Regions from separate parts of the Homo sapiens genome. Here regions 1, 2, 3 and 5 are each reported to be linked to region 4. The links are microRNA targets in miRTarBase. Many come from high-throughput screens and were not tested one by one. Region 4 holds a microRNA gene; each other region holds the end of a gene's coding sequence.
The links. Region 4 holds the annotated microRNA hsa-miR-6515-3p (UCUCUUCAUCUACCCCCCAG, at 1,271-1,290, opposite strand). A microRNA usually pairs through its seed, bases 2 to 8, with sites in the 3' UTR of a target mRNA and lowers its output. Matches are read on the target gene's strand: a 7mer-m8 pairs with bases 2 to 8, a 7mer-A1 pairs with bases 2 to 7 and ends in A, and an 8mer does both.

Region 1: the mRNA of RAB13 is a reported target of hsa-miR-6515-3p. Seed matches in the 3' UTR shown: 7mer-A1 at 1,912-1,918 and 7mer-A1 at 1,976-1,982.
Region 2: miRTarBase lists STOML1 as a target of hsa-miR-6515-3p. Seed matches in the 3' UTR shown: 7mer-m8 at 1,851-1,857 and 7mer-A1 at 1,756-1,762.
Region 3: miRTarBase lists FOXI2 as a target of hsa-miR-6515-3p. Seed matches in the 3' UTR shown: 7mer-A1 at 3,797-3,803 and 7mer-m8 at 3,615-3,621.
Region 5: the mRNA of GPR146 is a reported target of hsa-miR-6515-3p. Seed matches in the 3' UTR shown: 7mer-A1 at 4,521-4,527.

What each region holds. Positions count from the first base shown.
Region 1 is chr1:153,977,802-153,983,844 of GRCh38, reverse strand. It overlaps RAB13 (RAB13, member RAS oncogene family), which reads left to right. Exons shown (of 8, transcript NM_002870.5): 3 at 264-324; 4 at 549-626; 5 at 1,037-1,126; 6 at 1,245-1,310; 7 at 1,401-1,454; 8 at 1,669-2,195. The coding sequence ends at 1,746. It overlaps JTB-DT (JTB divergent transcript), which reads right to left. Exons shown (of 1, transcript NR_186180.1): 1 at 4,685-6,043. Among named protein-coding and RNA genes, the nearest start is that of JTB-DT, 3.1 kb to the right of the region's middle. RefSeq lists a silencer at 5,698-5,992 and an enhancer at 6,001-6,043.
Region 2 is chr15:73,979,911-73,985,953 of GRCh38, forward strand. STOML1 (stomatin like 1) reads right to left here. Exons shown (of 7, transcript NM_004809.5): 5 at 5,408-5,603; 6 at 4,749-4,961; 7 at 1-4,220. The coding sequence ends at 4,027. Among named protein-coding and RNA genes, the nearest start is that of STOML1, 9.4 kb to the right of the region's middle. RefSeq lists an enhancer at 1,922-2,111.
Region 3 is chr10:127,738,360-127,744,402 of GRCh38, reverse strand. FOXI2 (forkhead box I2) reads right to left here. Exons shown (of 2, transcript NM_207426.3): 2 at 3,220-5,883. The coding sequence ends at 5,438. Among named protein-coding and RNA genes, the nearest start is that of FOXI2, 4.2 kb to the right of the region's middle.
Region 4 is chr19:12,935,768-12,941,810 of GRCh38, reverse strand. MIR6515 (microRNA 6515) reads right to left here and starts at 1,327; the gene lies at 1,271-1,327. It overlaps CALR (calreticulin), which reads right to left and starts at 3,202. Exons shown (of 9, transcript NM_004343.4): 1 at 3,041-3,202; 2 at 2,576-2,677; 3 at 2,180-2,383; 4 at 1,664-1,758; 5 at 1,359-1,568; 6 at 1,157-1,270; 7 at 924-1,067. The coding sequence starts at 3,131. RefSeq lists enhancers at 755-1,382, 719-1,918, 2,811-2,860, 2,155-2,904, 3,531-3,580 and 2 more and a cis regulatory region at 2,962-3,600.
Region 5 is chr7:1,057,101-1,063,143 of GRCh38, reverse strand. It overlaps GPR146 (G protein-coupled receptor 146), which reads right to left. Exons shown (of 2, transcript NM_001303473.2): 2 at 3,883-5,652. The coding sequence starts at 5,628. The coding sequence ends at 4,627. All of the region lies in intron 2 of CHLSN (cholesin), which reads left to right. Among named protein-coding and RNA genes, the nearest start is that of CHLSN-AS1, 5.6 kb to the left of the region's middle. RefSeq lists an enhancer at 571-740.

The sequences.
Region 1 (6,043 bases), not on the chromosome of region 4:
GAGTAAGGATTAGATAAAATGATACATACACAGTGCTTGACACATAGCAAACATTCAATGAATAAGCAAAGACATCTTGTTTCTTGGGCCACTACCATCTCTGGAAATCAGCTCAACTGTCTTTAATCCCGTTCCCCTTTACTGTTTCCTTATTCTGTTGCCCCACCATGTTACAAAAGCTAAATTCTTGTGAGAGAGGAAGAATTATTCCGTTGGAGAATTCTTCCCTCTATTCCATCCCATGAAAACTTCTCCTTCTTTAGGGACACGGCTGGCCAAGAGCGGTTCAAGACAATAACTACTGCCTACTACCGTGGAGCCATGGTATGAAGTGTGGGTCTGAACAAAGGATGAAGGATGAGGCTACAGAATATATTATGAATACAAAGGGTCAGGGGTTGGGGCAGGTAAAAATGGGAGGGGTGCAGTGTGGGTTGCAGAGGGCCCAACATGGCCTAGTGTTTAGACCCATGGATGCGGGGTCACTTACAGGGCAGTGGGAAGCCTCAATGGGAACATGGTCCAAGGTGAATTTTGTCATCTCCCAGGGCATTATCCTAGTATACGACATCACGGATGAGAAATCTTTCGAGAATATTCAGAACTGGATGAAAAGCATCAAGGAGGTGAGGACCCTCCAAAAGAGATGGGGAAACTGGTTAGAACCTGGAGAATGAAGGGGTCCATCAGGATAGGCAAGACCTAACTTTTTTTTTTTTGAGATGAAGTTTTGCTCTTGTTGCCCGGGCTGGAGTGCAATGGCAGGATCTCGGCTCACTGCAACCTCTGCCTCCCAGGTTCAAACGATTTTCCTGCCTCAGCCTCCCAAGTAGCTGGGATTACAGGCATGCACCACCATGCTCGGCTAATTTTGCATTTTTAGTAGAGACGGGTTTTCTCCATGTTGGTCAGGCTGATCTTGAACTCCTGCATCAGGTGATCCACCCGCCTTGGCCTCCCAAAGTGCTGGGATTACAGGCGTGAGCCACCGCTCCCAGCCGGCAGGACCTAACTTTTACTTGTCTTTTGCCCCCAGAATGCCTCGGCTGGGGTGGAGCGCCTCTTGCTGGGGAACAAATGTGACATGGAGGCCAAGAGGAAGGTGCAGAAGGAGCAGGCCGATAAGGTGAGGGCCAGGCTGAGCAATGTTCTAGAACTGGGCTGGGAGGGCCAAGATAGGTTGCATTGCAGAGGACTTGGCTGCTGTCCTTAATTCAATTCTCTTCCCACTTCACCCCTTATAGTTGGCTCGAGAGCATGGAATCCGATTTTTCGAAACTAGTGCTAAATCCAGTATGAATGTGGATGAGGTGAGATCCACACCCCCATCCCCGACCAAGAGAGGAAGTATTAGAAGGTAGATTCTCCTCCCTCCAAACTGACTCTGTTCCCCACTTTAGGCTTTTAGTTCCCTGGCCCGGGACATCTTGCTCAAGTCAGGAGGCCGGAGATCAGTAAGTTGGTTTTGCTGGACTAGGTACAACTCTGGGGTGTGTGTGTGTGTATGTATGTGTGTGTGTGTGTGTGTGTGTGTGTGTGTGTTGGTGTTGATAAAAACGGGGAGCAATGCTAAGATTTCTCATGAGGGTGGATTTACTTTAAACAGTTTATACCCTCCTACCCTAACCATCCATTCACACCATGACACCTGTGCCCTTCTCCCTCTAGGGAAACGGCAACAAGCCTCCCAGTACTGACCTGAAAACTTGTGACAAGAAGAACACCAACAAGTGCTCCCTGGGCTGAGGACCCTTTCTTGCCTCCCCACCCCGGAAGCTGAACCTGAGGGAGACAACGGCAGAGGGAGTGAGCAGGGGAGAAATAGCAGAGGGGCTTGGAGGGTCACATAGGTAGATGGTAAAGAGAATGAGGAGAAAAAGGAGAAAAGGGAAAAGCAGAAAGGAAAAAAAGGAAGAGAGAGGAAGGGAGAAGGGAGAGGAATGAATTGAGGAAGTGAAAGAAGGCAAGGAGGTAGGAAGAGAGGGAGGAGGAAAGGAAGGAGAGATGCCTCAGGCTTCAGACCTTACCTGGGTTTTCAGGGCAAACATAAATGTAAATACACTGATTTATTCTGTTACTAGATCAGGTTTTAGGGTCCTGCAAAAGGCTAGCTCGGCACTACACTAGGGAATTTGCTCCTGTTCTGTCACTTGTCATGGTCTTTCTTGGTATTAAAGGCCACCATTTGCACAAATGTTCCTGTTTTGGGTAACTTGGATTATTGTCAGAATTGTTCTCCACTCAAATCCAATTATTGTGTCTTCAAAGTGATTGATTTACCCAAATCAGGCTCGGTTTCTGTGGAACCAGGACTAATCCTACTGCTGTCTCTTCCCTAGCTGTTCTGTTGGTAAGGAAAATAGCAAAGAGCAGGAGGTAGAGTGATCTGAAGGTCTGGATATCCTCTTTCCGCCATGGGGTCCGGATGCCCTTGTGGGCAGAGCCTTGTCCTGAGCACAGGAAATTCCCAGCGAGAAGAACTCTAACAGTCCTAGCCTCAGGGAAATAACTGCACCTAGTGATTTATCCAGTGATTTGTGCAAGCTTCTTTGATTCTGCCAGCAATCCATTTAGTTATTTGATAGGCATTAATATCTGCTTTTATTAGTGAGGAAAATGAGAAGTTCATTTATTCATATATGTATATTGAGCATCTACTAAGTGCCAGGCACAATGGTCAGTTATTTTATTTATTTATTCATTTATTTTTAGGGACAGAGTCTTGCTCTGTCTCCGAGGCTGGAGTGCAATAGTGCGATCTCAGCTCACTGCAACCTCTGCCTCCTGCCTCAGCCTCTCAAGTAGCTGGGATTACAGGCGTGAGCCACCATGCCTGGCCAATAGTCAGTTAATATAGCCCTTTGGTGGTACTTACAAGCAGAGGGACAAGGACTTTTTTTCTTTTTTAAGACCGAGTGTGGCTCTGTCGCCCAGACTGGAGTGCAGTGGCACGATCCCAGCTCACTGCAACCTCTGCCTCCCGGGTTCAAGCGATTCTCCTGCCTCAGCCTCCCGAGTAGCTGGGATTACAGGCACGTGCCACCACACCTGGCTAACTTTTGTGTTTTTAGTGGAGACAGGGTTTTGTCATGTTGGCCAGGCTGGTCTTGAACGCCTGGGCTCGAGTGATCAGTCTGCCTCAGTCTCCCAAAGTGCTGGGGTTACAGGCGTGAGCCACTGCGCCCAGCCTGGGACAAGCAAACTTTAACAAAAACAGCTCTTTGGCTGGGCGTGGTGGATCACAACAGGAGTTCAAGACCAGCCTGGCCAGCATAGTGAAACCCCGTCTCTACTAAAAATACAAAAAAAAAAAAAAATTAGACAGGAGTGGTGGAGGGCGCCTGTAGTCCCAGCTACTTGGGAGGCTGAGGCAGGAGACTCACTTGAACCTGGGAGGCAGAGGTTGCAGTGAGTTGAGATCACACCACTGCACTCCAGCCTGGGTGACACAGCCAGACTCTGTCTCAAAAAAACAAAAACGAAAACAAAAACATCTCTTTGCTGAATAACAAAGATGGCAAAACTACTGGAAATGCAAAAGAAAATTCAGGCTTGGGCCGAGCACGTTGTTTCATGCCTGTAGTCCCAGCACTTTGGGAGGCCGAGGTGGGTGGATCACTTCAGGTTGGGAGTTTGAGACCAGCCTGGCCAACATGGCGAAACCCCATCTCTACTAAAAATACAAAAAAAATTAGCTGGGCATGGTGGTGGGTGCCTGTAATACCAGCTACTTGGGAGGCTGAGGGAGGAGAATCGCTTGAACCTAGGAGGCAGAGGTTACTGTGAGCAGAGTTCGCACCATTACACTCCAGCCTGGAGACAGAGCGAAACTCCATCTCAAAAAAAAAAAAAAAATTCAGGCTTGATGCACAGCATCCTTAAGTATATATATATTATATTATATTATATATTACAATGTATAATTATATATATTATATATTAAATATATAGGAAATATATAATATATATAACATGTATATGTTTATAAACATATAACATATTATATATAATATATAATTATATATTATACATATATATTAAATATATATTATAATTATATATTTAATATATAATATATTATGTTTAATATATAATTATATATAATTATATTATGTTTAATATATAATATATAATACATATTTTAATACATAATATATATATATCCCCCTTTCACCATACATAATATTTTTTACACAGCAAAATGTAATAACTTGATAAATGTAAGTATCCAAGCATTGATGAGGTAATGATAAACCTTATTTGTGGCTTATGCTTAAGTTCTTTTTTTTTTCTTTTGAGATGAATTCTTGCTCTTGTTGCCCAGGCTGGAGTACAATGGTGTGATCTCGGCTCACCGCAACCTCTACCTCCCGGGTTCAAGTGATTCTCCTGCCTCAGCCTCACGAGTACCTGGGATTACAGGCATATGGCACCATGCCCAGCTAATTCTGTATTTTTAGTGGAGACGGGGTTTCTCCATGTTGGTCAGGCTGGTCTTGAACTCCCGACCTCAGGTGATCCGCCCACCTCGGCCTCCCAAATTGCTGGGATTACAGGCGTGAGCCACTGCGCCCAGCTGTGTTTGAGTTCTGTAGTAAACTGTCCGGTAGGTTTAATTTGCTCAAGCGATGAGGAAAAGACTTGCACTTTGTGCCTCCTGGGAAAGAGACTAACGTCTTCAACATACCTTATGGCAGATATTTAATTTCAGAGTAGAGACCCCACTCTGATGCCTGGTAAGGTTATTGGAAGTGAAATATCACAAGATCTTACAGTTTGTTGTGAGATAAGGTAGGATTTGGTGAGGAGTAACAAATACTAGCAGATTTCGGCCCAAACTTCAATTATAGCTAAACATTACTGGAAAAAACCCCACAACCTACTTTATGTAACATATAACTACTCACACACATACACAAAAATAATACACACACAATTTCAGCAAACACAAATAATAATTTAAAGAAACAAATTCAAAATTAGAGCCAGGTATGGTGGCACATGCCTGAAATCCCAGCTACTTGGGAGGATCCCTGAAGACGAGAAGTTCCAGGCTGTAATGCGCTATGATGGCTCCTGTGACTTGCCACTGCACTCCAGTCTGGCAACATAGCCAGAGTCCATCTCGTTCAAAAACAAAAACAAACAAACAAAAAACGGCGAAATGAAGGCTCAGCCCTCATCAGGTTTAGGTGACAGAGCTAGACCCTGTCTAAGAAAAAAAATAAAATTAAATGAAAATTCGTTATCAGACAGTAAAGCATGAACCCACAGTGCTGGTCAAGTCACTGCAGATCTGAGTGTGTATCAAGGTTTAACTCCATAAGATGAAAAGCAGGCAATGAATCTTTGGCCTGGGTGTTGACAGTCTAGGCTCAAGCCTCAGCTTTCCCACTCATTAGCTTGCTGACCTTGGACAAGTCACTTATATTCTCTGAACTTACTCATGAAACGGAGATACATTTCATCTGCCTCTCGCAAGAAAAAGTCCTGGTAAATACACATTAGCATTTCCGTTTTACACAGAACACTGACAGATACTTTCCTAAGATCATGGAGTTAATAACCACCAGAACCTAGACTCAATACTTATGGAACTTCAAATCTCATGCTTTTCTCATTGCACTTATGATTACTCCATTATGTAGGAGCAAGGGAGAGTTGAGAGCATTTGAAGAGGTTATGCAAAGGACCAGCTCTGAGGAGTAGGCTTAGCAAAGTAACATGAGGGAAGGTAACACCGTTCATCTGTGTAGCGGAGTGGGAGCCAAGAGACAAGGAGAAAGTTTCATGTTCGTCATGTGTCTCGGATATTCCGGTTTCTGCAGGGACGAGAACGCGCAGTTTCGCCTCCATCCCTTGACCTCCAACACAGCTTCTCCACTGGATCATCGGTGGCGATGAAGGGGCGGCTGGGGAAGGATGTCAGAGAAACCAGAAGCTTGACGGTGAATCCTCGGGTTTTAAGGAGAGAGCAAAGTCCTGAGAGGGCGACGTATTGTCCCTGCTCACCTAGCCCAGAATGAACAAACACGCGCCAGCC
Region 2 (6,043 bases), not on the chromosome of region 4:
TCTACAAAAAAAAAAAAAAAAAAAAAGCCAGGCATGGTGATCCTTTAAGCCTGGGAGGTTGAGGCTGCAGTGAGCCACAATCACTGCACTGCACTCCAGCCTGGGAGACAGAGTGAGACCCTGTCTCAAAACAAACAAACAAAAAACAAAAAAATAACTTGAACAATAAACAAAAAAATTACACTGAGATACAAATTTTCACTTTCCAGAATGTCAAAAGACCCAAAAGTTTAATAACACAGTGTATTGACATGACTATGAGAAAAAAACACCACTGACAATGGGAGTGTAAATTGGTATAATCCCCAGAGAAGGTATTCTGGCAATATTTACTAAATTATAAATGCTTTGATTTAGCAATTCCACTTCTAGGATTTTATCTTATAGATAAACTCTACCACAAATAGCACATGTTAAAGGTTATTCATTGCAAAAGTATTTAAAATAGCAAAACACAAGAAATAATCAAAATGTCTATCGGTCCACGACAGGTTGAATAATTTATGATACATCCATACTGTGGAATCCTATGTAAGTACAAGAAAGCACAGGGAAAGGCTGTCTGTGGTAACATGGAAAGATCCTCAGTGGGTAATGTTAAGTGAAAAAGGCAACATTGTGTTTCTATGTTGCCATTTGTATAAAAACAGGAACAACAAAAACCCAGAAGATACATATTTGGATTTTCTTGCATATATTTTTTTTTAAAAAACAAAACCTTCAGGAAGAATTACCAAGAAACTAATCGCAGGGGATGGGGGAAGGCATGGGAAATATGTGTGGAGGGAGAATTTTCATAATATGCTTTCCTATCTTTTTAAATGTTTAGCCAACCAAAATTTAAATATTGGCTGGGTACAGTGGCTCACACCTGTAATCCCAGCACTTTGGGAGGCTGTGGTGGGAGGATCCTGCGAGCCCAGGAGTTCAAGACCAGCCTGAGCAACATGGGGAGACATCCTTATCTCTACAAAAGAGATTTTAAAAATTAGCCGGTTGTGGTGGCACAACCTGTGGTCCCAGCTACTCAGGAAGCTGAGGCAAGAGGATCGTTTGAGCCCCAGAGTTCAAGGCTACAGTGAGCTATGATCATGCCACTGCACTCCAGCCTGGGTGATAGAGCAAGACGGTCTAAAAAATTTTTTTTAAATGCTTAAAAATAAGGCCAGGTGCGGTGGCTCACACCTATAATCCCAGCACTTTGGGAGGCCTAGGCAGGCAGATCACTTGAGGTCAGGAGTTCGAGACCAGCCTGGTCAACATGGTGAAATCCCATCTCTACTAAAAATACAAAAATTAACCAGGTGTGGTGGTATGCGCCTATAATCCTGGCTACTCAGGTGTCTGAGGCAGGAGAATCACTTGAATCCGGGAGGTAGAGGTTGCAGTGAGCTGAGATTGTACTGTACTCTAACATGGGCAACAGAGTAAGACTCTTGTTTCAAAAAAAAATAAAATACTTTTCAATAACATCAAAATAACACATTATATATTAATATATTAACTAGGATACTTAAACTATTATCATTATTCACCAGGTTATCTTGAAGAAAAATATAATAAGAAGTGTCTAGTCCGGTATAAGGACATATTTGGCACACAGTAATGGTTACTATTTCTATACCCTGCCCCTCAAATGCCCGCACACAACCTGTCTGGTACTTCAGGTTCTAGTTCCCCGAAGCCCAGTTGCCTGACTGCCTCTTCCAGCTGTGCCCTTGCAGGGACTTCTCCTCTGCTGAATGATTTTCCCCATCTCTTCTTATTGTCCACCTACTTGGTAGCTGGGATGTGGAGGACATCACCTCCTCAGGAAAGCCTTCTCTGATTGACACACACCCTCCTCCTCCCTCTTCACACCGACCCTTTAGGTGGCCCTTGTCCTTCCTCCCCTGTGGACTGCAGGGTCTGCTCAGTCCTCTGTAGTCCTGGAGTGCTGGCCAAGGATCGAGCTCCCCTCCACAGGGTGGGGATTCATGGCAGGGGCAGGCCTTACTCTCCACCTACACAGACATCCAGAAAAGTTTCGGTTTCCCCTAAACGTTATGTTGATCTTCCCATGCTCACAAAGAAGAGTTTGGGTTTCCCCTAAGTTGTGATCTCATTTTTCCTGTCTTCCCTACCCTCCAGCCCTACCCCAGCCAAGGGGCCGTGCCAGCTTTCATGGTGAAGATGCCTGGGGTTTCCTGGGCAGCCCTTCATATACTGTGTAATAGCAATGGAAGGAATCCACAGGTGAATGCTGATGCAGGAAGCTCCCAGTCCAGCAGGGAGGGCAGCCATATATGCAAGGAGCAGAAACACACAATGTGGAATGGGTGCAGAGAGCCAGGCAAGGGCACAGAGGACAAGTCTCACTGGGCCTCAAAGGGTGGCCACAGTGTGGCTGCGGGGATTGGAGGGCAGGCTTTGGAACAGACAGCCTCAGCTAGAAAGCCCTGGGAGGGCCCATGAGAGGCCTCCAAGTAGGCAAAGGGGCAACAGCAGGTGCAGCAGCCTGGGACTCTAGGAAGGGGCCCTGGAAACCTGAACCTCAATGGCCATGGCAGTGACAGAGGGGTCTGTGCTGGGCTTTAGGGAGGTGCCTCAGGCAATGTGGAGGACCTCCAGGAGGCGGGACAAGGCAGTGTCTGGCAAAGGCAGGGACAGACAGCAAACAAGACAGAGCCAGGCACCCAGGAAGGGCAGAGACCCCTTGGGGGAGAGGGAAGTTGCGGTGCCACAGGACAGGCTGGGGGCTGTTCTTAAGGGGAGGCTTTGATTTTTGTGGTTTTGTTTTTCCCAGAAGTCTCTCCAAGGAGTAAGATTCCTTTCTTAGGACTCAAGAAGTCAGAGGCCCCCTTCTCTGGGGCCCCTGGGGTTTGGGCGAGAGTACTGGAGCAGAAAGCAGGGCTGGGCTGGGCCTGGGGCCAGACCTCAATGACTGTTTCCTTCCCGTCAGCGAGCGGAGAAGCAGTGACAGAGTGTACCAGGAGGGGAAGCTGACGGTGGCCCCAACTCCTCTCTTGAATGGGATATGACCACCCCACCTGCCCCTCAGTGTTTGCAGGACACTCTGGCACACTCATGCCTTCCTTTCCTGGTGAACCTGTATCCCACTACAAAGAGGAACAGAACTCCCCACCCAGCCCCACCCTTGCTTCCAGGGGCTTTGAGACACTCAGGAGAAGGAGCTTCAAATATTGTGAGGGTCTGTCTGTGTCAGCCACCAGGATGTCAATCCCTGCCTGGGCTGGCAGCATGGACCTTGTGGACCCTCCTAGCCCACCCCATGCCCCCAGGAGCCCCGCTTGGCTTCTTCTCTTTTATACATTGTAAACACCACATTTATTTGTCTGAGGCTTGCAAACCTCTGGTAAGAAGCACAGAACGCAGGGCTCTCCTTCATGCTGCCCTGGGCCCCAGCTCGCCAGGCATGCAGGACAGAGCTGGCAGATGAGTCAGAAATCTTTGGGAGCAGCGCCAGGGAAGCAGCAGGCCCTGCTCCTTCCCATGCCCAATCCCGCCAGCACGGGCCTGGACTGCAGCCAGGAAGGTGGGCCAGCCAGGATCCCCAGGTAACTTCGCCACAGGGACCTCTTCTTGGAGCTGCCTTCCCTTCCCTCCCCATCCCTCTCCAATCCCCGCAGAGCTTAGAGCCTGGGCCACATGCTTGGTCCCTCACACAAGGACCAAACCAGCTGCTGTCAGGCTGTTTCTGTGGGTCCTGTCTCTCCAGTCAGGAAGCCAGCAGGGCAGGGCAGGCCTGGCTCTCCTCCTGGAATCACACCGTGCACCCAGCTCAGCGCTGGGCACTCAGCTGGGGACCGGGATGGACAAAGCCTTGTCCAGAGAACCACTGTAGGGGAGACGTGCATGGCAGCCGGACTCAGCCTCCTGCAGCCTCCATTCATGGGCTCTTGGCTGGGCCTGAAATTTGTTAGGGCCTCAACTCTCTGTGGTGCAGATGAACACCTCCTCCTCCAAGAGGCCCCTCAGGCTTGGTGCCAGGCTTGGGACTGGGCTCTGGAAAGTCAGCCAAGGCTGCTACTTCAAGGCCCTGAGGACAGCCTCCAGCTTCATGGCCATAGCCAGGTCGCCCTTCACCTTCAGCCGTCCACTCATGTAGGCCCCCAGGGGCCGCAGCTCTCTGCATAGCAGGGCCCGCAGGTCTGCCTCGGCCATCTCCACCACCACATCAGGGATGCCATCAGGCACCCCGTGTCCCACTCTTCCTCGTCCTGTGGGGCAAAAGAAAACCGAGTGTCAGTAGGGGAATGGAGGAACGTGAAGGAGATCTATGGGGGTGGGAGGGGCTGGTATTTCCCATTGGGAGGAGAGTACTGGTTAAGAGTTTGGGTTCTAATACCCTGGGTTTGAGTCTTATTGGCTGTGTGAACTCTTGGATCCTCAGTTTCCAAATCTGTGATGATAATTCCTTTAGAGATGACAATTCCTAAAGCATAGGCTCATGGTGAGAAGTGGGTGAGATAATGTACAAAAAGTACTTGGCACAGAGCCTGACAGGCAGCAGGCCTGTAACACGGGCAGGCCTCTTGGTATTGGAAGCCTGGCTGCATTGTCCTGCGGATGGCGGGGAGACCAGGGCATAGTTAATGCCTGGAAATGGTGTCTGAGCCCCTGCCTGCCATGGGTTCACCCCAAATTATTGGCAGGAGCAGGGGGCAGTCTACGAGAGCACCACTGGGGTAGGTAACAAGAAACCTAGCAAGCTGGATGGGAAGGAGAGGCAAGGAGGGCAGCGGCACCTGTAGTGAGGTCCAGGAAGTAGGCGCTTTGGGTGCCGCTGGGCAGGACGACATTGAACTGGTAGCAGGCCCCGACTTGGCTGACCAGGGCCTCAGACAGGAAGGGCTGTAGAGCAGTCAGTAGCCCCTCCGCCAGAGGCTGCTTCGGACTGGACCTGGCACCAACTTGAGGGGCAGGTGGCTCAACTTCACTCACCATCTCCACGGTGTCTGCTGGGGGTGGCCAACAGGGTTGGGGAAGGAGGCAGAGAGGAGGTCATCGTGTTGCCAAGGTCAGGACCACTCACTGTGGCCTCTGCACCTTTTGTGGCAGTTTCCTCTTAGATCCCCTTCAGGCCTCTGTTCAACTTCCTCCTCTACCAGAAAGGTGCCCCTGAGTTTTCAGCCTAAACTGCAAACTCAGTTTCTAAACTACTCCAGCCTCAGATATAAAATTCTTTCCAGCTGCCCTTCTGGTGATGTCGCCTCCTCCCATGGAGGCTGCCAATGGCCTCTACACACTCAGACACCTGGCCTCCTCTCACTGCCTTGGCTGTGGTCAGTGTGGGCTGAACATCTGTGCAGGGTGTGTACTGCACAGAGCTGCTGGGATAGTGAGCAAAGTCTGTGCTGGCACCAAGCTGGTAAACACCCCCGCTCTCCTCCCCAGGGCTCCTCACCTGGCCCCGGGGACGGGGCACCTCCTGCCATTGAGTTCATGCTTCCTCCCAGGAAGTGCAGGGCCAGCTGCTGGAGGGTGCTGTCCAGGTTGGGCCCAGCTGGGCTGTCCTGGGGCGGCTGGAGCACGGCCTCCACTGCCAGCTCCACGCGGTCTACCTCCAGCCCCCAGGCCCTGGTCACATCGTTGATCTCCAGCTGGAGGACAGTGTGAGGAGAAATGTAATTAATTCAACAAACCTTTCCTGAGCACCTTCTTTGGGCAGACTGTGTGGCCGTGCATGGACATGGAGGCACCACACCGCCCTTGAGACACTCCTAGCCTGGGAACACAGGCAGAGGGCAATGACCTTTCAGCTGTGGTAAGTGCCAAGACAGAAGCAAGGCCTGTGGTGAGCCCCCAGCAGAGGAGGGTGGTGCCAGCAGGAGGGAGTCCTCAGGTGGAGGAGGACCCTTCCAGCAACAGGAACAGCATGTGCAAAACCCCAGACAAGAAAACCTGGCATGTTCGTGGAGCTGCGAGGAACCAGAGTTCCATTTAGCTGGACCCTCACATGTCGGCTGAGGACTGGAGACAGCTGAGGGGTCAGAGGTGGGGTGTTTCTGCTTACTTTGATTTATTCTGAGGCAACAAAGAG
Region 3 (6,043 bases), not on the chromosome of region 4:
CCACCTGTCCACAGTCTTCCTGGCTCTAGGGATGTTACTCTGGAAGAAAGCAAGCTGGTCCCTTCCCACATAAACCATAGGAGAAGAGGCAGGAAGGAACTTGGTCTTCTGTGGGTGTGATGCAATACATCCAAGGCCCCAAGAACACACCAAAGGGCACTTAACTTGGACCTGGATTGTCAGAAGGAGTCTGGAAAAGTGAGGTCTCTCTAGCACCTGAGGGATGAAGGGGGAAGCAGAAAAGTCAGGAACAGAGAGTAGGAAGGCTGCTACTGACGTAGCTCAGTATTATCTGTGGCCTCTGAGAAACAAGTCAGTTAACTTGTCTGAGCCTCAGTTTCCCCATAAGTAAAATGGGGATGATAATAGGGGCATCACTGGGTTGCTGTGAAGGCTTAATGAAAAACGCACAGGAAGCATCTAACAGAGTCCCTGACGCTTTCCTTGACCTTCAATCTGTCTGATGGATGAATGGGTGACTCTTAGGGGTAGAGAAAGACTCAATGACTTGTAAGTTTAATTTGCTCTAGATTACAGCAGGGACGCAACTCCAATTTTCTTTTCTTTCTTTCTTTTCTTGGTGAAGGTCCAATTCAATATACTATTTATTGCCCTCCATGAAATGGGTGAAACTAAAGATATTTTTAATTCTTTGTGTTCAGCCACTGATGAAATCTGACCAAAGAAAGTAGTTTATTGCAGGTACCCAGGGGTTAGCCCTGAATAACGTTGATCCGCAAATTTAAATTAGATTAAAAGAAAAGAGCTCTAAAAACTTTAACCTATAGATGGACTGCACACTCAGAAGCCCTGGGGAAGGGCCAACTCTGGTCACATTAATTGTCTCCCCTGTCACTGCCAAATGACAGATCTTCTAATATGAGGACAGGTTTTAAGTTTCCTAAATGACACTGTGGAAAAGTGAGCAGATGGGACCTACACCAGCCCGGGGCAGTGCTTAACTCCCTGCCTAAAATCACAAAGAAGTTATGAAACTGAGAAATCAAACACTTCCTGAGTTAGCAGGGTGTGGAACACACTGGGGTCTGTATATAAGACACAATATGTTACTTGTGTTAACAAGTGAGATGGTTGATGACTTGATCATCTATAAGTAATCCTTATAGAGCCAAAAAGCCACGTCCAGCCTGTAATTGCTCACTCATCTTTGTTCCGACCACTGGAAGGAGGCTCTGTGAGGGTAGCAACAGGCTCAGCTTATTCACTGCATGACTTAATACCACATAGTTAACACTCAAAAGAGATAGACTGAACAAGTCACATTTTATTAGGATACAAGTGACTCAACCTCTATTGCATTCTGTGGCGGTTCCACATGTTTCTCTCCTACCTGGAGTCAAATCCTGAACTCAAAGGGTTATTTGAAAATACTATGCCTTTAGGTATGGAGGGTAGGGGGTGTAATCTGTGGCTTTTCCCTTGAAGATCCTACCCAAGATGGGGTTTGGTGGTGTGTGTGGGGTGTGTGTGTGTGTGCGTGTGCGCGTGTGCGCATGTCCATCAATAGGTGCATTTGTGAATATGAGCCACGTAAAAGTTGCAGGTGCATCTGAAGTCCCTTTTAGCTCTCATCAGTTTAGCTTCTGGAGATCTTTTAGCCCCTTGACTCAGCTTTTCTATCTGCAAAATGGGGATGAACTTCAGTGTTCTGTTTCACTGAAGAGAGAGTTCTAATAATTACTATAATGGTATTTCTTTGAATGAAAAATGTCACTTGACCAGCAGATACATTTTAGAAGACTAAAGATTGAAGGTGGATTAATATCCCAAGGCAGCATTGCTAAAATGCAAAACTTTTTCATCAGAAAAAAACATACTCAATGTTTAATCAATATGTGAAATATCTTGAAATCCAATGTTCACTTTTTAAAACACTATATATGGCACTTTACAAAACATTTCTAACAAATGTTGAGTCTTCTTCATGAATGGTTCTTCTTTGTATGGGGATAATTGACCCAGTGACCAAAGGTTTCTAGGACAGATTACAGTTTCCTGTATTATTATTCTCTTTCATTTTCAGTCACTAGGAAATTACCACTGCTGCTTGGCAATGCAAAGAATTCCCAATCACCCAATATTTTGGCATGTTTTAATTGTCTTTCACCTCTGAATTTTGAAGCTTGCTTCTATATTTGAAACTATTCAGTGCCACCAAGTTGTTTATTCAGACTAAGAATTGGATATTCCTATGGCACACTGCCACGTGCCTATGCCACGATGCAGAGGTTTTCCTTTCATTGAAGTTTCACAGTTACTTTTGGAATTGTCTGCAGGATTCACGATTTCAAACACACACACACACACACACACACACACACACAAGACAGGGCAGGGGAGCAGATGGGATCTGAGTGCCACAGTGGGCTCAGAACCCCGGGGTTAGAGCACCCTCCTAGCCACCTGGCAGCAATGCCCTGGCCTGACCAACAGGACCACGTCCTTCTGCTGCCTGCATTCAGTGAGCTCTAGGGACTGTGGTCAAGTTCACCAAGCCCTGGCCAGAAGAAAGTATTTAACCATAAAGTGACCTCAAGCTGCATTTTTTTGTTTTGATTTCAACAGTTTCTTTGCTATGGGAAAATGTTTCTTTGGGATAATGAGTCTGAAGCTGACTGTGCCATGCCTGGGCCTATGAAATGCATTTTGGCCTGGCTTCCCCTCTCCTAAGCACATCCAGGCATGTGGGCTGTTTTGGAGGAGAGAATGGTTTGGCCATCTAACCCCACCCATGTCCAAATACCTTGCACTGCTGGAAGTATTTTTAACCAAGCTTTTCTCATGAAGATTTCACCTATTTGTTTATACTATTACCTACTAATGGTATAAAGCTTTGAATAAATGAGCAACTTTCAAACGGTAAAAAACGATCTTTGGGCAACAAACCAAAAGTTGAAAAATCTTAAATATTTTTTTCTCAATTTTAACATAAATACCATTGTTAGAGAAAAAAAAAAAGCAGCTTCCCAACATCTAGCAGTCATGCAGCCATGACATTCCATGTTTACATCCACACGTGTCAGCCAATTTTCTCAAAGCTCCACTGATTGTCCAATTGTCCATTGCATTTTCCAACTGTTGTCAAATTTAATTAGGAAAAGATCTTTCCAAGTTTCCTGCAAGTTCAGACTCTAAAATGGGGATGTTTGTCATAGCAGTGGAATTCTTATACGAAATAGCATACACATGCCAGCTATGTATGTTATATTGGTCTTTATTTTTAGCATTTCATTCTATTAAAATAGGTTCAAGGGATACTTTTTAAATGTATAAGCTAAGGAATTTATTTTCCTTTCCTGGTCTTCTTTAATTGTATTGCTTATGGGGAGTGTCCCCCCAAGAGAGATTGCGGGTTGGTTGTGAGTTTAGTTAGGCGACATCATCACCTTCAACACAACTGGCACTCTGCTCACCTGCTTGTGGAGGGCAGCAGCAGAGATGGCACGTGGAGTTAGGAGCCACTGCTGATGAAACATATGACCAGGGCCAGGTTTATCCCAACTCCTGGCTCCTTCTCTCCATGTTCCCCCGCCTCCTTCCTTCTCCCTCCCTCTCTGTCTTACGCACACACGCACACACACACACACACCTCACTCTTCAGCAGGGCCATGATGAGTCAGCTCTAGGGACAGTCAGGAGCCCTGCTCTCATTTCCAGCACTGGTGGCAGCTGCAGTGAGGGGCCCTGCAGGCAGATCAGGAATACCTGCGTGGCTGGGGCTTAGGATTGCTAAACCAGCCTGTCCCACTCCAAAGTAACAGTAACCTGTCTCCACTCTCTTCCTGGGAAGGACCCCTCCCACCCTCCCCCAAAATGCAGGGAAGATAGGTACCCCCATCAACAACAAGGTGGGTACCCCCCCCCCACCAACGTCTCCATCTCCAGGGAGTCCCAGATGCCACAAAGACTCAGGGCATCTGACTGGGGCACTTAGGTCCTCTAAGGAGTACAGAGGCCAAAAAATTCCTCTTCCCAGTGACTGGGGGCTCCTTGTCCTTCACAAAGATACCATCCCTAAGAAGGAACTGGGTGGGGCAGGGTTCAATTTACACAGGAGGCTGCTGTTCAGGAGCTCTGAACACACGCACAGCTTTGGCTCAAACTGTGGGTTTGGAGGGGAAAGAGACCAAAACAAGTGTGGCCTTCCATGAGCCTGTGTGAGTGTGGGTGTGGGTGTGGGTGTGGGTGTGGGTGTGGGTGTGGGTGTGTGAGTATGAGTGTGGGTGTGGGTGTGAGTATGAGTGTGGGTGTGTGTGGGTGTGAGTGTGGTGTGAGTGTGGGTGTGAGTGTGAGTGTGGGTGTGAGTGTGAGTATGAGTGTGGGTGTGAGTGTGGGTGTCAGTGTGAGTGTGGGTGTGAGTGTGGGTGTCAGTGTGAGTGTGGGTGTGGTGTGAGTGTGGGTGTGAGTGTGAGTATGAGTGTGGGTGTGTGTGGGTGTGAGTGTGTGTGGGTGTGAGTGTGGGTGTGGGTGTGAGTGTGTGTGAGTGTGGGTGTGGGTGTGGGTGTGAGTGTGGGTGTGAGTGTGGGTGTGAGTGTGAGTGTGAGTGTGGGTGTGGGTGTGGGTGTGGGTGTGAGTGTGGGTGTGAGTGTGGGTGTGAGTGTGGGTGTGGGTGGCACAAACCTGGACCCTTGGGGAACTCCTGGGTGCTGGGCACCGCTCCTGTGGTCAGTGGTGGCGGGGCCCTGGGGAGTTGCCTTGTCCTAGAGGGGGGTCATCAAGGACCAGGGCTGAGTGACAGGGAAGGGAGCTGGTATCCCAAGGGCGCTTTCTGCCCACGCAGTGCTTCTCCCTCCCACCACCAGCAGTTCCAACCATTAGCAAGACCTTCCTTACACAGGACCCAATGCCAACTGTCTCAGATCCCCTCACTGCAGGCTCCTGGCCCACCTGGAGCCCACTGCAGCTGCTCCTGAGCTCTGTCCCCCAGCCCCTGCGGCAGCTTCCCTGAAGCAGAAGGGAAGGCCCTGAGCCAGGTGGGCCAAGCTGGGTGGAGGTGGAAAGGGCCCCCACCACCTGGGCCGCTCTGGCAGCCCACCTTCTTCCCATCTGCTCTAAGGCTCTTTGGAGTCAGCCAGCCTCCTTGGAAAACGCTGGAGCTGAGGGCCGACCCGCCGCCCCTTCAAGGCAAATCCCTCGAGAGCACAGGTTCTAGACGCCCAGGGCGGCTGGACTTAGAGGCAGAGCAGGGAGGTTCCGAAGGTCGCCTGGGTGAGGGGTGCACAGCAGAAGGGCCACCCACCCCAAAGCCCAAGAGCCGCTCAGCCCAGCTCCCTGCTGGCCGAGCCGCCCCCGGCTCTGCGCTTCCTCCCAGGGCACCAAGGCCTTCAACGCCAACACGTGGGGCTGTCACCAGGGGAAACCGGAGGCCTGAGCTCAGCACCTCTGGACCCGCACCCGGCTAGCCTCCAGCCTCCCTTCAAACTTCGGTCCCTTCCCGGCTGTAGAGGAGGTGACTGAGGCGGAAGCCGGCGGCCGCGGTCTGGTGGCCAGGGGCGAAGCCAGGGGAGGGGTTAAGGGTCTGGGGAGCGTGGGTGGCGACTGTCGGTGGCCGCCTCCCGAAAGAAAAGTCGCCCGCCAGGCCCCCGGGGAAGGTGCCAAGGCCGCCAGCCAGAGCGCTCATAGCAGAAGCGAAACCGGAGAAGCAGGTGGCGGCCTCGGGTGCGGATGGAGAGGGCGAGGCCTGCAGGTCCAGGCAAGCCGCGCTCGGGGGCTCCAGCGCTGGCGCCTCGGCCCCTCCCACGCTCCTGGCTCCCGAGCGCACGGCCGCGCTGGCTTCAGCTCTCCTCTTCCTCTTCCTTCGGAAGTTCCCGTTGTCAAACATCTTCTCGCAGTTGGGGTCCAGGGTCCAGTAATTGCCTTTACCTGCAGAAGAAGAAACAGCCCAGTTCAGAAGGTTCGAGCTTTGACGGGCCGTGGTGTGAGCCAGCGAGGAGGTCAGCTTCAGAAAGATCCCCTGCTGGCCCTTACAGAGGGTCTGAGTCCTCGCCCCCATTCCACCCTTGACGGGCACTCTGTACCCGAT
Region 4 (6,043 bases):
GCAACATGAAGCCCTGTCTCTACAAAAAGGCTGGGTGAGGTGGCTCACGCCTGTAATCCCAGCACTTTGGGAGGCCAAGGTGGGTGGTTCATGAGGTCAGGAGATGGAGACCATCCTGGCTAACACGGTGAAACCATGTCTGTACTAAAAAAAAAAATACAAAAAAATTAGCCAGGCATGGTGGGGGGTGCCTGTAGTCCCAGTTACTCGGGACCCTGAGGCAGAAGAATGGAGTGAACCTGGGGGGTCGTGCGGAGCTTGCAGTGAGCAGAGATCACACCACTGCACTCCAGCCTGGGCGACAGAGCAAGGCACGGTCTCAAAAAAAAAAAAAAAAAAAAAAATTAGCCTGGCATCCATAGTAGCACATGCCTGTAATCCCAGCTACTCCGGAGGCTGAGGCAGGAGAATCGCTTGAAACCAGGAGACGGAGGGCGCAGTGAGCTGAGATCGTGCCATTGCACTCCAGCCTCAGCAACAAGAGTGAAACTCTGTCTCAAAAAAAAAAATTTTTTTTGTAGAGATAGGGTCTCCTCGCTGTGTTGCCAAGCTAGGTTGAGTTGTGTAACTCCTGGCCTCAAGCAATCCTCTGTCTCAGCCTCCCAAAGTACCGTGATTGTAAGGGTGAGCCACTGTGCCCAGCCCCAGCTAACTAACTGGGTTACCTGACCACCTTCTAGGTCTTTGGGGGTAAAGAAGTTGATTTGCATAAAAGTACTTGGGGAAGTACTTGGTGCACAGCAAGTATAACCTTAAAGGGGTTGCTGTGAGGACTTCACAGGGACAGACCAGGAAGTACTGTTTACAAGAAGTACCATTTTTGAGTCAGACTCACCTGGGGTGCCTACCCTGTCCCTTTCCTCTTGGGTGATCTTATGCACTTGAGGTACCCCAGGGATCCTCCTTTTTCCTCCAAGTCTCACCTGCCAGAGGTCCAGGCCCAGCACGCCAAAGTTATCATAGGCATAGATACTGGGATCGGGAGAATACTCGGGGTTGTCAATTTCTGGGTGGATCCAAGTGCCCTTGTAATCTGGGTTGTCGATCTGCCGGGGCTTCCACTCACCCTGCAGAAGGGAGAAGGAAACCGAAGGGTGAGTAAGGTTGGTGCACTCCCCACTGTGAGCCCCAGCCCTGCTCAGAGCCCCAAACTCACCTTGTACTCAGGGTTCTGAATCACTGGGGGTTCCCACTCTCCGTCCATCTCTTCATCCCAGTCCTCGGGCTTCTTAGCATCAGGGTCAGGGATATGCTCGGGCTTGTCCCAGTCCTGGGGGGTAGATGAAGAGATCAGAGTTGGCCCAGATGTCTTCCACACCCTCCAATGTGGAGAGCAGAGCCCCTGCCCAAACACCAACCTCAGGCTTGGAGTCTGTGGGATCATCGATCTTGGCCCGCTCATCCCAGTCTTCCGGTTTTGAAGCATCAGGATCCTTTATCTTCTTGGGTGGCAGGAAGTCCCAATCGTCTTCCAAGGAGCCGGACTCCACCTGGCTGTTGTCAATCTTCACCTCATAGGTGTTGTCTGGCCGCACAATCAGTGTGTACAGGTGTGTAAACTCATCATCCTGAAGAAGGAAGAAGGTGAGCGGGGGCCACCCCCCAATGAGGCTGACCTCTGAATCTCCCCATGACAGCCATTTGCCACCACCCCCAGGCACACCTTGCAACGGATGTCCTTGTTGATCAGCACGTTCTTGCCCTTGTAGTTGAAGATGACATGAACCTTCTTGGTGCCAGGGCCACAGATGTCGGGACCTAGGTGTGAAGCAGATCCAGTTAAGAGTCAGAGACTACCCATCATCTCGAGGCTCTCACCCCTCTTTATAAAAGGAAGACCTGGTTCTTCAACTCGGGTCTGTCAAGGCTGAGAAGAGAAACTCAGACCCTGATTCTGTCCTGAATGGGCTGTGGGTGGAGCCTTAAGTTTAAAGGAGAAAAAAAAAAAATCAGTGCTCTAGAACTCAAAATCCTCATTAGTAAGATTGGGAAATAACTATATACAAACACGCAAATTAAATTAACAGCCTAGATCTGCGATCATAATGCAATAAATTGTTGCTGGGACTTATTCTTTTAGCTCCCCTTCCAAAAAAAATCATTATTAAGAAAGTCAATGGGGTCTGGGTCTCCCTCTAACTAATGGGACAGAGATCAGCACCAGGAAGCAGGCCCTCACCAAACATGATGTTGTATTCTGAGTCTCCGTGCATGTCTGTCTGGTCCAAACTATTAGGAAACAGCTTCACATAGCCGCCCCCACAGTCGATGTTCTGCTCATGTTTCACCGTGAACTGCACCACCAGCGTCTGGCCTTTGTTGCTGAAAGGCTCGAAACTGGCCGACAGAGCATAAAAGCGTGCATCCTGGCTTGTCTGCAAACCTGAGACGGGACGGTAGTGAGGTCACCGTTGGGCCTTGACTCGCGAGGACCCTCGACTTAGAGAATAGAGAAGACTCCCCCACTTCCTCCACCTGTCCTCCTCCAAGGGGACTGTCCCGGCTGTGTGTGTACAGACAAGGACTTCTGCCAGGAAGTCCTCCCGGATCTGAGCACCCACTCCTAGGCTCTTACCTTTATCTTTCTCCTCGTCACCGTAGAACTTGCCGGAACTGAGAACGAATTTGCCAAAATCTGACTTGTGTTTGGATTCGATCCAGCGGGAAGTCCACCCGTCTAAGTGGGGGATTAGAGGGGTAGGTCAGAGCGGCTGTGCTAATCCCCCCCCACACCAAACATCTGCCGAGAGCCACAAGCTGCTGGGGACAGGAAAGGAGATCCCCGACACTCCCCATTCCAACCTCTAGTTTGACACGTCGGGTGCCTTCAGAGATCCTCGGGCTAACCCTAACTCCCGCCGCGGGAGGCCGCTACGCCCTCCGCGCTCCCCAGGGACGCAGAAGAGAAATCGCCCGCGGCTCTAGTCCCGGGAGGCCACCGTGTTGGACCTCTAAACGGTAATTACGGGCGACAACGCAGATCCAGGATCGGGGGCCGGCCGCGTCGTCGGGGCGGCCTCGAGGCGGGACCAGGCGTTACCTCCGTCCAGAAACTGCTCCTTGAAGTAGACGGCAGGCTCGGCGACGGCCAGGCCGAGGAGGCCGAGCAGCAGCGGCACGGATAGCAGCATGGCGGGCCGAGGGGGCGGCAACGCGCGGGCCCTTTAAAACGACCCTCCGGCAGCGGCTCTGCAGTACGGACGGACGCCGCCGCCCGCCTTGCACTTTTATACCCACCCGCCTCTCAAACCAACCTGACCCAGCCCTTGGGCCCGCCCCTGCCACTTTGTCATTGGTCTATGCCCATGGCCGTCTTTTTCCATTGGACCTTCGTCGGTTCACTATGTTAGGCTGCGCCTCGGAACGCTGGGTTCCCAGATGGCCGATTTCTATTGGCCTCACCACCGACCAATGATGGTCGACCACGCGTGGGGGGGACGCCCACTGGTGGGGTGGGGGCCGCGAGCACCTCAGGCCAGGTCATGTGACCAGACCTGAACCCAACCCCGCCCTCGTCCGCGCGCGTCGTTGCCCATCTGGGCGTTTAAAGAAACCGCGGGAGCGCAGCTGTCTCCACGCGGGACCGGGACCCTGCCCTCAGCTTCTCTCCCTCCCATTCCCTCTAGGTGGAGGGGCTGGGCAAGGCTTTCTTAGCCAGCTCTTATCTTGCATTTGAGAACCAGCACCCCACTGCTGCTCCCCCACCCCTGCCTGGGATGGGAGAGAGCTCACGGATTGGGGCCCTTGGGGCTTCGCTGCACCCCGGTGCTACAGTCACGCGGGCCGGTGGGAAGAATGCCAGCCCTCTCCTCCTTCTGCCCCTAGAGCCCTGGCAGCCTATCGGACTGCTGCTGTGTGACCGGGGCAAGTCACTTAAGCTCTCTGAAGTGACAGACGTTCCTGAGCAGACAGAGGGGGCGACCCTGGCCAGATGCTACCCAGCAGAAATGCTTTTAACGTTTTTAAAGCTGTCCTGGGACAAGAGGGGAGGAAGGCTTAACGATGTGACTGTGACTTCTGGAGTGGGGATAGGGTTATTACCCAGATTGCAGCCGCCCCTTTACCCTCCTCTCAACCGGTAAATGAAGGGGGTCGCTGTCTGTGGTCTCCCACAAACGGCCTGGCTTTTGCAATTAAACGGCTATAGGCAGGCGAGAGGGCAGGGGGTTCCGTTTGGGGAGGGAAAAAAGACACAGATGGTAGGGACGATAAGATGCTAGGGAGATGGGCAGGACCCACCCCCCGACCCCAGTCTAGAGTCTTCTTCAGAAGCCAGAGGCACGTGACTGGCACCAGTACCCTGCCCCCACGCTGTAGAAAGGAGGAAGGAGAGCTGGGGGTTTTCCAAACTCTGGGCAAATAAGCCCTGGACCTGGGAGCGCGGGAGTGGACTATGGAAGGAGGGAATGAGGGGGATCCAGGAAAGAGGGTGGGGAGGGGGTGCTTCCTGGCTAATGGTTGTGACTCAGAAAAGAGAGGAAGGAAAAAATGAAAAGGAAAATAAAGTGGAGTGGGGGGAATGACTTGGCAAGGGTCTCTGGTTAAAAAAAAAAAAAAGAAATGGTGGCCGGGCGCAGTGGCTCACGCCTGTAAACCCAGCACTTGGGGAGGCCGAGGCGGGCAGATCATTTTAGGTCAGTTCGAGACCAGCCTGGCCAACAAGGTGAAAACCCATCTCCACTAAAAATAAAAATAAATAAATAAATAAAAATTAGCCAGGCGTGGTGGCGGGTGCCTCTAATCCCAGTACTCGGGAGGCTGAGGTGGGAGAATCGCTTGAACCTGGGAGCCAGAGATTGCAGTGAGCCAAGATCACGCCACTCCACTCCAGCCCACCAGCCCAGGTGACAGAGCAAGACTCCATCTCGAAAAAAAGACGGGGGAGAATGAACTGGGAAGTTGGGGTTCTACCACTTCCTCTAGGTAGTATTCAGTATTGCCTAGTCTGGTCCCCCCCATGAGGATCCCGGGGACCATCCCAGGCCTCTTGCTGACCCTTCCTCCTGTTCCTGTGTCAGGCACCTGTGGGCTTGGCGCTTCCTACTTGAGGTTAGACACTGCCTGTTTTGTTCACTTCGCATCCTCCAGTGTCACCTGCAGCACCTGGCACAGAACAGGCTTAAAAAGTACTTGCTGCATGATAGAAGAGAGGAAGGAAGGACTCTTGTGGAAATTAACTAAAAACACACGGGGCACAGTGGCTCACGCCTGTAATCCCAACACTTTGGCAGGCCAAGATGGGAGGAATGCTTAAGGCCAGGAGTTCAAGACCAGCCTGGGCAACATAGCAGGAGGCCATTTTTACAAAAACATTTTTTTTAATTGCCAGGCGTGGTGGCGCCTGCCTGTGTTCCCAGCTACTCAGAAGGCTGAGGCAGGAGGATCACTTGAGACCAGGAGGTTGACGCTGCCGTGAGCTGTGTTGTTGCCACTGCACACTCTAGCCTGGGTTACAGAGCAAGACCCTGTCTCAAAAATAAATAAAAATAAGCCGGACATGGTAGTTCACACTTATAATCCTAGCACCTTGGGAACCTGAGGCAGGCAGATTGTTTGAGCCCGGCAGTTCAAAACCAGCCTGGGCAACATGGTGGAACCTCATTCTTACAAAATATATATATGTACACATATGTAATATATTATATATGACATATAATGCATAAATATATGAATAGTATGTATATTATATATAGCATATAATATATAATATACATAACACAAATTAGCCTGGCCTGCTGGTACACACCTGTAGTCCCAACTACTCGGGAGGCTGAGGTGAGAGGATTGCTTGAGCCCAGGAGGTGGAGGCTGCAGTCAGCCAAGATCATGCCACTGCACTCCAGCCTGGGCAATAGAGTGAGACCCACTCCCTAAATAAATAAATAAATAATCAACATAAAATGGGAGGAGAGAAGGGACTTTGAGAAATGTATCCTTAATACAGAACCTCATATAGGGTCAGGATTTGGGGATATGAGTAATCCCATTTTACAGACTCAAATAATAATTGTGATGTAAAAGGAATAAATGTGTTCTGCTTATA
Region 5 (6,043 bases), not on the chromosome of region 4:
CAAGGTGGCTGAGCAGGATGGGGCGTGGGTCTGTGAGCGATGCCAGAAGACACAGGATGGAGGAGCCCAGAGAGAACGGAGGGGGCAGGTCAGATGCACTCACACGCTCAGGCTTGGCAAAGCCAGGCAGGCCCAGAGCGATTCTGTAAGGGTTAGGGTTCAGATGAGGGTGTTGAGGGTTAGGGTTAGGGTGGTTAGGGGGTTAGGAATAGGGTGTTTAGGTGAGGTTTAAGTTGGTTAGAGTTAGGGGTTAGGGGTAGGAGTAGGGGTACATGTGAAATGGGCATGTTCACGTTATGCTTCCTGCCTAGATTCTCTGCTCTTCCTTCACTTCCCAACCTGACGGAGTGCGGACCGTGCGCACCGCCATACAGCTCTTGCCAGGCTGCCCTGTGCAGCAGGGCGGAGGCAGGAACGTGTGCTCTCACTTCTGCCGGAATCCTTGGGAGGGCTGCAGGATACCCCAACACCTCAGTTCCATCCTCAGGGCCACAGAAGCCCTCAGGGGTGTAGTCAATGGTGACTTTATTCTTATTTTTCTGGGAGGAGTAACGCCTGTGTGGGGCAGGCCTGCTCCTTCAGCCCGCGTGGCTTACTCCTTCGCCAGCAGCCAAGGTACTCCCTCTGCTACCGTTTGAGACGTGTGGAGACATGGTTTGCGTGCCGGGCGTGTGTGAAGTGGAACCACTCCTGGGTGATTGGGTGGACAGAATTTCTGCAAAGAGGAACTACAGAGGGGTAACCGAAAGTATTAAGACGTACAATTCGAGGGGAAATAACCAATTTTATGATACTTTCTGTTACGGTTACTATTCCTGCTTTCCCTCTGTCGTGTGCTGTGTATGAAAGAAGACGTGTGTAGATTTCCTGATCTCTTCGCCACAATTCACACTAGATCCAGCTTCCTACAATAACTCTTAGAACTTTAATGAAGTGAATCTACAACTAAACTCCCTTTCTGGAATCTTACTTAAGGAAGCAGGGCAAGGTTTTTTTGTGGATAAACAAAAATAAGATGAATGATTTTTGAACTATAGTAGTCAAGAAGTGTTGGTAGCAATATCATTGACCCTGGGACGTCACGCGCTGAAAAACTCGCATCCTGGTGTCTCACAAACTGGGGAAGAATTGGGGAGTTGGGCAGACGGCTGCCTGGAAGAATTAAGCAGTTGGAGAGATGGCTGCCTGGAAGAACTAGGGAGTCGGGGAGACGGCTGCTTGGAAGAATTGGGGAGTTGGGGAGATGGCTGCCTGGAAGAATTGGGGAGTCGGGGAGATGGCTGCTTGGAAGAATTGGGGAGTTGGGGAGATGGCTGCCTGGAAGAATTGGGGAGTCGGGGAGATGGCTGCCTGGAAGAATTGGGGAGTTGGGGAGACGGCTGCCTGGAAGAACTGGGGAGTTGGGCAGATGACTACCTTGACTTTTTACAAGTAGCTCCTTTTTCTGCCCCGAGTGGCTCAAGTTCTTGTGTTCTGTGTGTGATGAGGTGAAGGCTTTGGGAATCTCTCAGGGGCGGCAGGAGGCTCAGGAGGTGCCGAATCTTCCCAGGTGAAGGCAACATAGAATATAGATGAGCAGGTGTCTCAGGAACAGTCAGCGACGCAGCTCCTGGGAAGCAGCCACAGAGACTGGCGGGAGCCTGGGGATGAGGACGGAGGCCTTGGCGCTCAGTGGAGGGTCTCAGGCAGCAGAGGCTGGCGGGAACCTGGGGATGAGGAGGGGACTCGCTGGGTAGGGGGTTGGGGCAGGCCATGGTGCACAGTGAAGTGTCTCAGGTAGCAGGCGAGGGTCTGCGCTGGAGGCATGTGCCTGCCCTGTGTGGGGCCCACCAGGAACAAACAGCTGACCAGGCAGCAGGGTGTCCCTGGGGCCCTCCACAGGGCCACCCAGCAGGGTGGGATGAGGGGTATTGAATGCAGGCCAGTCCCTGCAACAGACCCACAGAAATGAGCCAGTTTGCACCCAAAGCCACTGAGAAATTGAAATAGTGATTTTAGGCCCCTCCTGCCTTTGGGGAGGATAGTTGGATGGTGTAATTCCCGGGCAGAGGCAGCCCAGTGCCACCCTCACCTGTGTGTGGGGTCCGCCCCTTTCCTGGGAGCTCAGCGTGGAGCCAAGGGGGGCTGGAAAGTATCGGCCAGGAAGAGGGTCTCCTGGTTCAAGCACGGACACCCCACCCTGCAGAGCTGGGCTGCAGGGGTAGGAGGGTTGGGCTGACGGCGCCAGCCGCTGGGCAGGGTTCTGTGGGCTTGTGTGATCACTTCCTCATCGGATGCCAGGGTTTCCGCGCAGGCATGGAGATGGGAAGCCCAGGACCATCAGAGACGCGGCCCTTACACCAGCTCCGGCTCCAGAGGGACTGGGAGGGAGGTCAGGCCTGCGGCTTTAAAGGTTCACACCTGAAAACCAAACACTGACAGAAACAGCTCAGAAAACTGTTCTCTAATCCCACGGCTTAGGAGCCTGTCCCGCGGGTCTGAGCTCCCCGCAGGAGCCACCCAGAGCCGCGTCCTCACGAGGCCGACTCTGACCTGCTTGCAGCACGTGATGAATAATGCCAGTGACCTCGTGGCTGAATTCCCAGGAGACTGGGACCAGAGCGTGACGTCCCCACGTCGATGGCTGCAAGGTGCCACTCCCCCCACCCTACCCCCACTGTCCCTGGGGCCGGGCATACTCAGAATTCCAGCGCGTTCAGGCTGTGGGGAGGAAGTGTGCCACAGAACCCCGGGGCGCTCAGGGCAGCTCCCACAGCCACATCGCCCGTCTTCAGAAGGGGTGGGGTCCTCATGGACATGAAGCTCTCACACCCCTTCAGGTCAGGGATCGCTGCCCAGTGAATTTGCCGCAAACTTGGGGGGAACATCTTCCTGTTTTCAGAGCTTTGTGGGCTTTAGAATTGGAGGTAGGGGATTGCAGGCCTATACTTTAATCCTAGAAAATCGGGGAGAGGCGAACAGATGGTGGGGAGGAATGGGGGCTTTTCTCACGGCCACATTTTAAAGTAGATGTTTTACAAAATCCCAATGGGTGGAAGGTCTCCAGCCAGGCTGACGAGGAACAATTGCCCCTGACTATAGACCCGCCTCACTAAGACCCGCCTCACTACGGACCCGCTTCACTACGGACCCGCCCCACTACAGACCCGCCCCACTAAGACCCGCCCCACTACGGGCCCGCCTAAGACCCGCCTCATTACGGACCCGCCCCACTAAGACCTGCCTCACTAAGACCCGCCTCACTAAGACCCGCCTCACTACGGACCCGCCCCACTACAGACCCGCCCCACTACGGACCCGCCTCACTACAGACCCGCCCCACTACAGACCCGCCCCACTACGGGCCTGCCTAAGACCCGCCTCATTACGGACCCGCCCCACTAAGACCTGCCTCACTACGGACCCGCCCCCCTAAGACCCGCCCCGCTAAGACCCACCTCACTACAGACCCGCCCCACTACGGACCCGCCTCACTATGGACCCGCCCCCCTAAGACCTGCCTCACTAAGACCCGCCCCACTAAGAACCACCTACTGACCCGCCCCACTCGGGACCCGCCTCACTAGGAACCGCCTCACTACCGACCCGCCCCACTAAGACCCACCTCACTAAGACCCGCCTCACTACAGACCCGCCCCACTACGGACCCGCCCCACTATGGACCCTCCTCACTGCAGACCTGTTCGCTCAAGTGGAACAGGCCGGTCCGGGCCCCATCTGAGGCTGCGAGGGCCGCGGAGATACGGATGCTGGTCCCAGGTGCCTTCGGAGCTGGCCTAAGGTTCCACCCTGGCCCTCCCACCAGACCCCGTGTGACACAGCCTCCAGCCCTCTGTCCCCTGGGGGCCCTTCAGCTCTGGTATTCAGTCAGAAATCCTAACACACCTTTCTTTTGTTTATTTATATTCTTTAGTTTTGTGCACACTTTGAGGAATTGATTTAGGACAGGTTCATACTGAAAAAAACCTCAGCTGATGTTATCTGTGGGGGCTGGGGAGGGTGTCAGGGACATTTGGTGGCTGAGGAGAGCGCGTCACTGCTATTGAATAGCTCCATTTAACACCAGCCATGTCTCCGCGTCTCAGGCACTTCTGTGAAATGTTCTCAGAACCCTGTGGTGACTGCGGCACACCCGGCAGGCCTTGCTAGCACACGCCGCCCACTGGCAGGGCCCGGCCACCCTGGCTGTTGCCATTCTTTCGTAGGGTTTTGTTCATTTTACTATTTGTCATTTTTCTAGGAAACATCTGTTTTTGTAAAACAAACAAGGGGGAATCAAGTATTTTAACCACAAAGTATAAATACTGGCTCTAAGCTTTCATCACTTCATTGACAAACTGAATGCTGAGGAGGCTGAAGGCGAGGAGGCTTTTGCGGATGTGGACCTTGAGCTGCGTGTTTGGGAGACGCACAGGCCTCGGGGAGACTCAAGCCAGATGCCAGCCACGGGGACCACAGCCTTGGCCCAAGAGTGGCATTTGTGGGAAAAAGGAAACTTCAAGAAAAACACCCCTCCTGCTTCTCTTCCAGCAGCTCGTCTCCTTCTGGAAGGATGTGGGGAGCGTCCAGGGTAACTAAGTGCTCTGCGTCCACCAGAGTCACGTCTCCCCAGGAGGGCTGGGCCGCCTACGCCAGCACCTGCTGCACCCCCATGTGGTCCGGGGAGCAGTGCCGGTCCCCGCAGGGCAGCTTTTTCATCAGCCGTTGGAGCTTGCTGGGGAAGCTCTGGTTCATGTAGCGGTAGAGAAGTGGTGTCACAAAGCTGCTGGAGAAGGCCAGGAGTTTGGAGAAATCCTTCACAAAGTGCAGTAGCCCCAGGTAGTGTGCGTCCACGGGCTTCCCTCGCGAGATGATGACCGTGTGCCCCAGCAGGATCAGATAGTGTGGCGTCCAGAGCCCAAACTGCGTGCACACGGTGGCCACCAGCAGCCTGTGTGCCGAGGGCTCCAGCCGGCCCGTGTCCCGGTCCAGGGGCGTGTCCTCCCTGCGGACGCGGGAGAGTAGCACCAGCGCGTAGAGGGTGGCCAGTGCTGGCACCACGTAGCCGATGAACACCAGCGTGGCGTCGGCAGCTTCTGCGTTCTGCATCTTGGCGCACTCTAGCGCGCGGGTGGACACATGGCTGCAGATGTAGAAGAGCAGCGAGGAGAAGCTGGTCAGCAGCGCGCCACCCCACACGAAGCCGCACACGTGCCGCGTGTTGTACACGCTGGCCATGTAGGTCCGCGGCAGTGCACGCTCGATGTAGTGGTCGAGGCTCAGCAGGGCGGTGGAGTACATGGCCACCAGTGAGGACACATTGAAGGGGATCTGCAGTGCCACGTGGACTTCGCCGCCCACACTCCACAGCGCCCACCGGGAGCTCGGGGGGCCGAGCAGGTGCACAGGGGCCAGGGCGCTGAGCACCAGGCCTGCCACTGCCATGTTGACAAAGTACACGTCCGGCATGGTCATGCTGGCCTTGCTGTGTAGGTTGGCCAGCACCAGCAGGGCGTTGTAGCACAGGCCCACTGGCACGCCCACCACCAGGCCCAGCAGCGACAACAGTGACAGCCCCAGCTGCAGGTCCTGGCAGGCAGGCAGCTCCTCCACCAGCCCTGTGCCGTTGAACCAGCTGCAGCTCCACATGGCGGCCGGCGAGGCTCCGCGACCCTGCGGAAAGAAGGAACAGGTGGTCAGCTCGCGTCCCGTCCCAAAGCCCTGGCCCAGAAGTGCTGCAGGTACAGGGGTGCCTTCTCCTGGTGCAGTAATCGCTGCAGACCACAGAGCGAGGCTGCCTTTGGTGCATTTCTGTGAAAGTGAAGTTGAGCGTTGAAAAATGGCCGTCTCGGGTCGTGACCGGGGGCTGCTGTGGCTGCACTTATTTCAGCGGCTGGGGTTGGGGACCAGAGAGGGAGCCTGGTGTGCCCCACATTCTCAGAGCCCACTCTTCACGGGCTGCTGCGAGGCCTGGGTGGTCGTCCTGAGTTGGTTGGACGGGCCCCGCACAGTGATTCCCGAAGTTTACTAGATGTCTGTGGTGTTCGCATCTTGCCAGCGCCGG